Homo sapiens: one gene and its partner. The protein of the gene in region 1 interacts with the protein of each later gene in a biochemical or structural test. Each region holds a gene or a part of one and is shown on either strand. Other genes may lie near its edges.

The links. The genes of interacting proteins can lie anywhere in the genome.
Region 2: the proteins of PDLIM7 (region 1) and GRIP1 interact in a test that uses a peptide from one of them, tested with the Homo sapiens proteins (one large-scale study listed by IntAct).

Annotation. Positions count from the first base shown.
Region 1 is NC_000005.10:177,491,105-177,494,604, reverse strand, and holds part of PDLIM7 (PDZ and LIM domain protein 7), read left to right. Parts: intron 1-1,927; coding exon 1,928-2,079; intron 2,080-2,169; coding exon 2,170-2,200; intron 2,201-2,679; coding exon 2,680-2,798; intron 2,799-3,184; coding exon of another isoform or gene 3,185-3,201; intron 3,202-3,458; coding exon 3,459-3,500. UniProt on the Homo sapiens protein: May function as a scaffold on which the coordinated assembly of proteins can occur. May play a role as an adapter that, via its PDZ domain, localizes LIM-binding proteins to actin filaments of both skeletal muscle and nonmuscle tissues.
Region 2 is NC_000012.12:66,459,077-66,462,576, reverse strand, and holds part of GRIP1 (glutamate receptor-interacting protein 1), read left to right. Parts: intron 1-3,500. UniProt on the Homo sapiens protein: May play a role as a localized scaffold for the assembly of a multiprotein signaling complex and as mediator of the trafficking of its binding partners at specific subcellular location in neurons.

The DNA of each region.
Region 1 (3,500 bases):
GCCCTCCTCACTCTGGGAAGGGAAGCCGTCCCCGCCCCCCACCCCCTCTCCAGGAGCCAGCTAGCTGCACCCCAAGACCCCCACCTCGGGCTCAGCCCACAGCTCCCAGGAGCCAGCCCTGTGGGCAGGGAGTGGCTGGGCCAGGTTTCCCTTCTACTGACTCACCATGACCTTGAGTAAGTCACTTCCCCTCTGGGGTGTCACTTCCCCATACACAGTATAAGGGGTTGATTTAGTTGGATTGAACTAAAGGTGAGGGAGTGGCTCAGGGTGTCTCCAGGTGGGCTGACCCCTCAGTTGGGCCCCCATGCTCAGCAGAGGTGGCCCACAGTGGTGGAGCCTTAGGGTCAGAGACACTTCCTGGCTCTGCCTCTTACTAGCTGGGTGACTTGAGGCAAGTTGTTTAACCTCTCTGTGTACATTTGCAAGTGCAAAATGGGTAAAATCCCAGATTACTCCACAAGGTTGTTGGAAGATTCAGTGTCAATATGTAGCATAGTTGGTGCTCAATAAACTGAAGCAAGTCTTCTTATCTAGCGAGTGAGGAAGGGGCCGCCGAGCTCTCTTAGCCTTCTGACCTCCTACGCAAGCAAGAGGTCATGTTGAGCCCAGCTCGCCTTTCTTTTCCCAGTGCTGTCAAGCTCTGTGCCTGGCTGCCCTGCCCTCTGACATCTCTCTGAAACCTCTTGCCTCCCCTCTCCCTGCCTCAGCTCAGTCTGTGCACTGACCCACCTGAGGAGCCTCCTGGGGCCACTGGCAGCCTGGACCCCCCCAGATCCCCCCCACCCAGTGAAATTGTCTTCCAGCACTGCCTCACAAAAGCCTACTTGATGCAGTGCCAGGCCTCTTGCCAGATGGCTGGGTGGTCCCTTAGGCTTGGACCCAGTCAAGCTGCCCTGCCTGTGTTGCTGGGGCTGGGCTAGAGGCCTGGAAGGGGTTTATCAGGGTCACCCTCTCAGGGCCTGGGAGATACCCAATCCCAGACATTAAAACTGCCAGTAGCCCCTCTACCTTCAAAGCCAAGTCCTGGTCCCTTCCCCTGGCATTCAAAGCCATCGTAAGTGAACTCTCACCCGCTAGGCAGCACACGCCATTCTCCTTTACCGAGGCCCACCGCTTCCTCAAAGTCATTCCTGATGGTCTCAGCTCATGCTGGTGGCAGCCATTTCTCCCAGCCTACTGTCTCTACTCATTGCCACAGGAACCAGGGACTCCCAGCTCAAGAGCCTGAAGGATTGGGGTCAGGGGAAATTGGCAGTCGAGGGCTTGGGAGTGACAGCCATGTATGGCCTACGAAGTCCCAGCTGTCAACTTAGGTCCCATTCAGGCAGTGTTCACAGGGAACCGGGAGATAACAGGGCCTGTTCCTGGCTCTCAAAGGGTCCCAGCAGACCCCTATAGATGGCCCCCGACAGGGTGCTGGGGGGTGAGAGGTCCATAAGAGCCCCCGGTGGTTTCGGGGAGGAAGCTGCCCCCTGCATGGGCCAGAGGGCATATCTGGTAGGTGGAGTGGCCTGGGCAGGAGGCCAGCAGGAGCCTCAAAAGGCAATGGTCCTCCTGAAACACTTGGGCTTTAGCCTGAGCGTGGCTGTTTGTGGACATCATAGCAATTTCTGGACTGTGGGGGAGGGTGGTGGCGGTGAATAGATAAGCATCGTGACTGGGGAAGCTCAGGTGAGCACCACCTGAGGGAGAGGGTCTGGCAGTGAATAAATAAGCAGTGTGACTGGGAAATTGTGAAGCTCAGGTGAGCGCCACCACCTCCTGGGTTGCTTTAGTGTCCAGCAGCTGCCTAGAACTATGTTGAATGAAGAGCTCTCTGGGTTCTGGAAGTGGGACAGCTTTGGGTGGGGCAGTGTTACCACCGTCAGCCTGGCTTGGGTCTGCAGGGTCCAGGGCCTCGGTCACTTTGCTTCTCTCTCCACAGCTCACTCCTGGGGGCAAAGCGGCGCAGGCCGGAGTGGCCGTGGGTGACTGGGTGCTGAGCATCGATGGCGAGAATGCGGGTAGCCTCACACACATCGAAGCTCAGAACAAGATCCGGGCCTGCGGGGAGCGCCTCAGCCTGGGCCTCAGCAGGTATGCGGGTGGACATGGATGGGTGCGCCCGCGCTGGCAGTGGGGATCCCTGCGGGCCCGGCCCGCTGTCACGCTTTCCTTCTCCTCCAGGGCCCAGCCGGTTCAGAGCAAACCGCAGAAGGTACGAGGCTGGCCGGGACATCCGGGCGGTGGGCGGTGTGGGCTTGGACGGCCAGGCCTGCTCGCCCTCCTGGCACATTCTCGGTACCCCAATCCCTGGCCGGGAGTGGAGGGCAGAAACCGGAGCTAAGGCGGGTCTAGGGCCCTGGAGTTGAGCCAGGGGCTGCTGCACGGTCCTGGCACCACGCATGTCCGCCTGTCTGTCCGCCTGTCTGTCCGCCTGCTGCCTCCCGCCGCCGGCGCTGCGTGCTCGCCCGCACTCGGTCAGCCCTCGGTCCTGCGTGGACTGAGATCGCCACTCCCAAATGGGCCCCTTGAAACCTGAGTCGTCCTCTCCCCGTAGCCTCCAAATAGATGTAGGGGGTGGGGTGGGGGTGGGGGGCTGGAGCTGCCGCTGTCCTCTGCTGCAGGCGCCCCACTTCCACCCAGGCCCCCACCTTACCCTGCCCGCCCGCCCTGCCCGGCTGTGTCTCTGCCCAGGCCTCCGCCCCCGCCGCGGACCCTCCGCGGTACACCTTTGCACCCAGCGTCTCCCTCAACAAGACGGCCCGGCCCTTTGGGGCGCCCCCGCCCGCTGACAGCGCCCCGCAGCAGAATGGGTACGTCGGCCCCTGCCCGCCCGCGCCCACGCCATCAGGCCCACTGTGGCCCCACGCCCGCTGCCCGCTGCTGCTCAGTCTGTGCTGCGCCCCAGCCCGGCGGAACCGTGCGGCAGCGCCCCCTGGCGGCCGGGGTGGGGCTGCAGGCACAGGGCCCCTCCCGAGGCTGTGGCGCCTTGCAGGGCACCGCCCTGGGGAGGGGTCTCTGAATGACGCCGCGCCCCCTGCTGGCGGCTGGGGGTTGGGTTGTGGTGTCGGGCCAGCTGAGCCCCAGACACTCAGTGCCGCCTTGTCCCCGGCTGTTCTGACCCCTCCCCGTCTTTCTTCCTCTCCTGTGTCTGTCCCTTTGTCCCTTTATCTGTCTGTCTGTCTTATTTCCTTCACAGGTGCAGACCCCTGACAAGTCAGTGAGCCCCCCTCTGCCTGTGCCTTTCTTCTTCCTTTTGGCACTCTGGGTGGCGGCCCCTCCCCACCCTGGCTGCCCTCCTCTCCACTTCGCCCTCCTGTCCTCTCACCTACCCGCCCAGCAGGGCTCCTGGCCTCACCCTTACCCACTCCCTCCCATCACTGTAACCCAAACCCACATGCACCAAATCCTGGGAGGGGCTGCCCCCACCGCCCACCCCCAGTGTGGGGTTCTGAGCCACACCCTCCCCACAGACAGCCGCTCCGACCGCTGGTCCCAGATGCCAGCAAGCAGCG
Region 2 (3,500 bases), on another chromosome or scaffold:
TTGTTTACTCTAATTCATCTTCCAAAGTCTTTTTTCTAAGCCACACATAATTTGCTTGAAACCCTAACATCGAGGAAAAAATTTTCAGGCTAGTGCTATTTGATATTTTTTTCTTAAAAAAGTCTTTGGTGCAAATTGAATGTGCAGACAAGGAAAATAATTTGACTTCCTGGTATACATTTTGAATTTCCAGCCTAGATGAAGGCCAATGAAGGCAAATAGTAAAGCTCTCACTTAAAAATAAATAAGTAAAGTGGATTTTAATAGCAGAACCTTCAAATATTTGGCAGGAATCAGAGGGAACCAGTTATATGAAGCCTTGGTTTACAATATATTATGTCTTTTGCCAGTGGAGTTTTTTTCTTAGGATAGAGAACAACCTGTCTGAGCAAACATCTTGTCTGGGAGAATCAGAATATTTAACTCCATTTATTCAATAGAAAGTGTCAGCTGAAGGTATCTGTATTTTGACTCCCTTGAAATTCACAGATACATTTGCTGGGTGTTTATACCATCTACCTAGGCACCTTTAGGCAAAACCTGGTATGAGAAAGGGGTCTTTGAGCCCCAAATCAAATGAAGTCAAGTTTTCCAGTAGGATATTTGTTCCGACTCCCTCTCCTGCCCTATTCCTTAAAGCAAACACCATTCCTTTGTACTCCTTGAAATTAGAGGCCTCACTAGTATTGTCAGGGTGGCCTGAAGGAGGATAATGCATTTCTGTATATTTAGACACAGTGCAGTTTTCTCTGAAATTGAAATTTTGCTTATGAGGGGGTCATTTGTATTGTGTCTCCCACCTTTTAAAATGCACTACACTTCTCCACAGTCTGGGGCGGGGGGAAAGAGGGACCAGATAATTTTCATACTAAATCAGTCAGCTGGATGCAACCTTTTTAATTAAATGGAGCTTAGACAGCCCTGAAGCTAATGAAAATCTCTAGTACAACATTACCCTTATCAGATTTTAATTTTACACATTGGAGTAGAGAAATGATGCAGCATAGGCAGGTTATGAAAAGAAAATCAGCATCACAGTATTGGAATAGCAATGCAAACAGCTGTAGGAAGGTGCCGTTCACAAGGATGCACACCATTCCTATCAGGAGGCCCCGTGGGCCCTTCCTGCACTCTGGCAGAGAGGAGAGATTTCTGAAGCTGTTTAAGTTTCTTTAAATTAATCGGCAGTCATCATTGGATTTGGAGCACAGTAGCCATAAGAATGTACACTGTGTAGTGCTCTCTCAGCATGGGGTTTTGCTTGCTAAATTCTGGTATCAGCGAATCGGAAATGCATACCAGACCCTTTTAAAATGTTAGCATCTTTAGTAATCTCTTTTATTTTTCTTTAATTGGCCCTATATACAATTCATAAATAATTCAAGTGTTTTCAACTCATGGAATATTAAATTTTTTAACCTGCCAAGGCAATTTGAGTTTAATTTATACACTAAAATATATGGACTAAGCACAAATTTTTTGCCTTTATTGTGGAAAACCTGATGTCGTTTGTGTTGCAGGGATAGGAAACTGATAGGAAGTTTAAGTAATTCTAGCTTCCACTTCTGACTCCATCGTCTACGTTTACTGAAAGTTGTTCACTGTCTTTCTTATCAAGCAGGTGTTTCCGTTATATTGCACATTAAAATCAGACTTGGATTTCCAAGAGGAAATAAATTTTGGCTCCTAAACATAATTAAATCATAGTAAAGAAGAAAAACAAACAAAAAATTATTATTGTGTTTACAATTCTCAAATTTTTGACTAGTGGAGTTTTACATAGTTTTACCCTTTCTCCACAAGAAAGTTCTGATTGTTTTTTCAAGATCTCTGATGCCTGAACAGTGTGTCTCTCAACACACTTCCCAAATTTCCAGATTGTGTTAGCAGTAAAGCATATACCACAGAGTTTTCAGGCCAGTGTGGAAATGAATATCTCAACTTGGGATAAGAGATTAGCTATGCCTTTCACTGATAAATAGCAGCATTAAAGAAGCTGACAGAAATGAGTTTTCAGTGAGGTTAGAAATTTTTCCCACTGAGGGTTTTCAGGAGACATAATTGGATTGAAGGAAACTGACGTTTTGGAAAGGAAAATGTGACCAGAGTCACTAGACTCGACACATTCAGTACCAGGAGGACCTTCCATTTGAGAGCTCCAGGGCAACCTGGAACCACTGTGGTCTGCTCTCTCGAACATCCTGAACAGAGTAAGAGGCTGCAATTAGAGAAAGAAGAAAGAAAAGTAACTTCTGTGGCCATATATCTCTTGAGACTGCAGTAGTGACGTCACCATGGAATGATACAAGAACCATAATATTTTAAATGTGTTGTTTTCTTATCCATAACAAGGGACTTAGACATACCCATAGGAAGAGGCGGTATGTCTGGTGGTTGAAGCGGGGACTTTAGGATCACGTGTCCAGAGCTTCACCTCTGACTCCACCACGTGGGGTCTTAAGCAAGTTACCCAACTTTTCTATACCTCAGTTGCTTCATCTGTAAAATGGGGGTCATAATAATACTTGCCTCAAAGGAATATTGTGAACATTGTCTGAGCTAATCCATGAAAAAGCACCTAGCACAGTGCCTAGTATATAATAAGTAATCAGTGAAAGTAGGCTACAATTATTGGCTTTATTAAATGAGAGAATGTCTATAAGTGCTCTTTGCAAAATGACAGGACATGCCAAAAATGTAACATCTTATTATTAAACTTTGGAAATACTTGCCTATCAAGTACACCACTGTAAAACAGAAAACATTTGGAGTGTACATTCAAAATAGGCAGCAGCTCTCTTCTCTGGCCTACATTATTTGTTCAACACCTTTTGCATTCATCATCCATGGCATACAGTTTTGTGCATTATCTTATATCATTTTTGTCTCTTAATTATTTTATATGTATGAAGATTTAATCCCCAGTAGTAATTCAAAGTCAAGGTAAATGGTATGACCTTTAACCTGCCTGTAGCAATTGGCACAGTCTGAGAAAGCAATAGCTGGTAAATAATATCTTCCTTATTGACTTATTAATTGTGCTGTACAGTCCTAACAAATGCCCAGTAATTTTCAAAGCTCTCAATGAAGAAGCGGGTCAAAAGGTGGGTGTAGAATCCCGAAGTGCATTCACCGTACCCTGGCTTCATTTGAAACACAGATGGTACTTTGTGAAAAGTACGCTAAAGTGTCGGTGGTTGTAAATTGGCCAAACACAGTAATAACTGCGTCTTGCTGAAATGTCTTCTTGTACACCCAAAGTAGAATGAGGATGGTGAGAGAGAATCCATTAGGGACATCTCCTGCAATAAATACTCTTTTGTCTCAAGGAAAATGCTGCTGCAGTGTTCACATGGACACTCTGGCTGATATTCCCGTTCATTCATGCATTTGTTTATTCATTCATTCATGTATTAGTCATTATATACCAGGCACTGTTCTAGTTGCTAGGATATATTTAGTGAGCAAGACAGGCAAAGTATATCCCTACTCTTATAGAA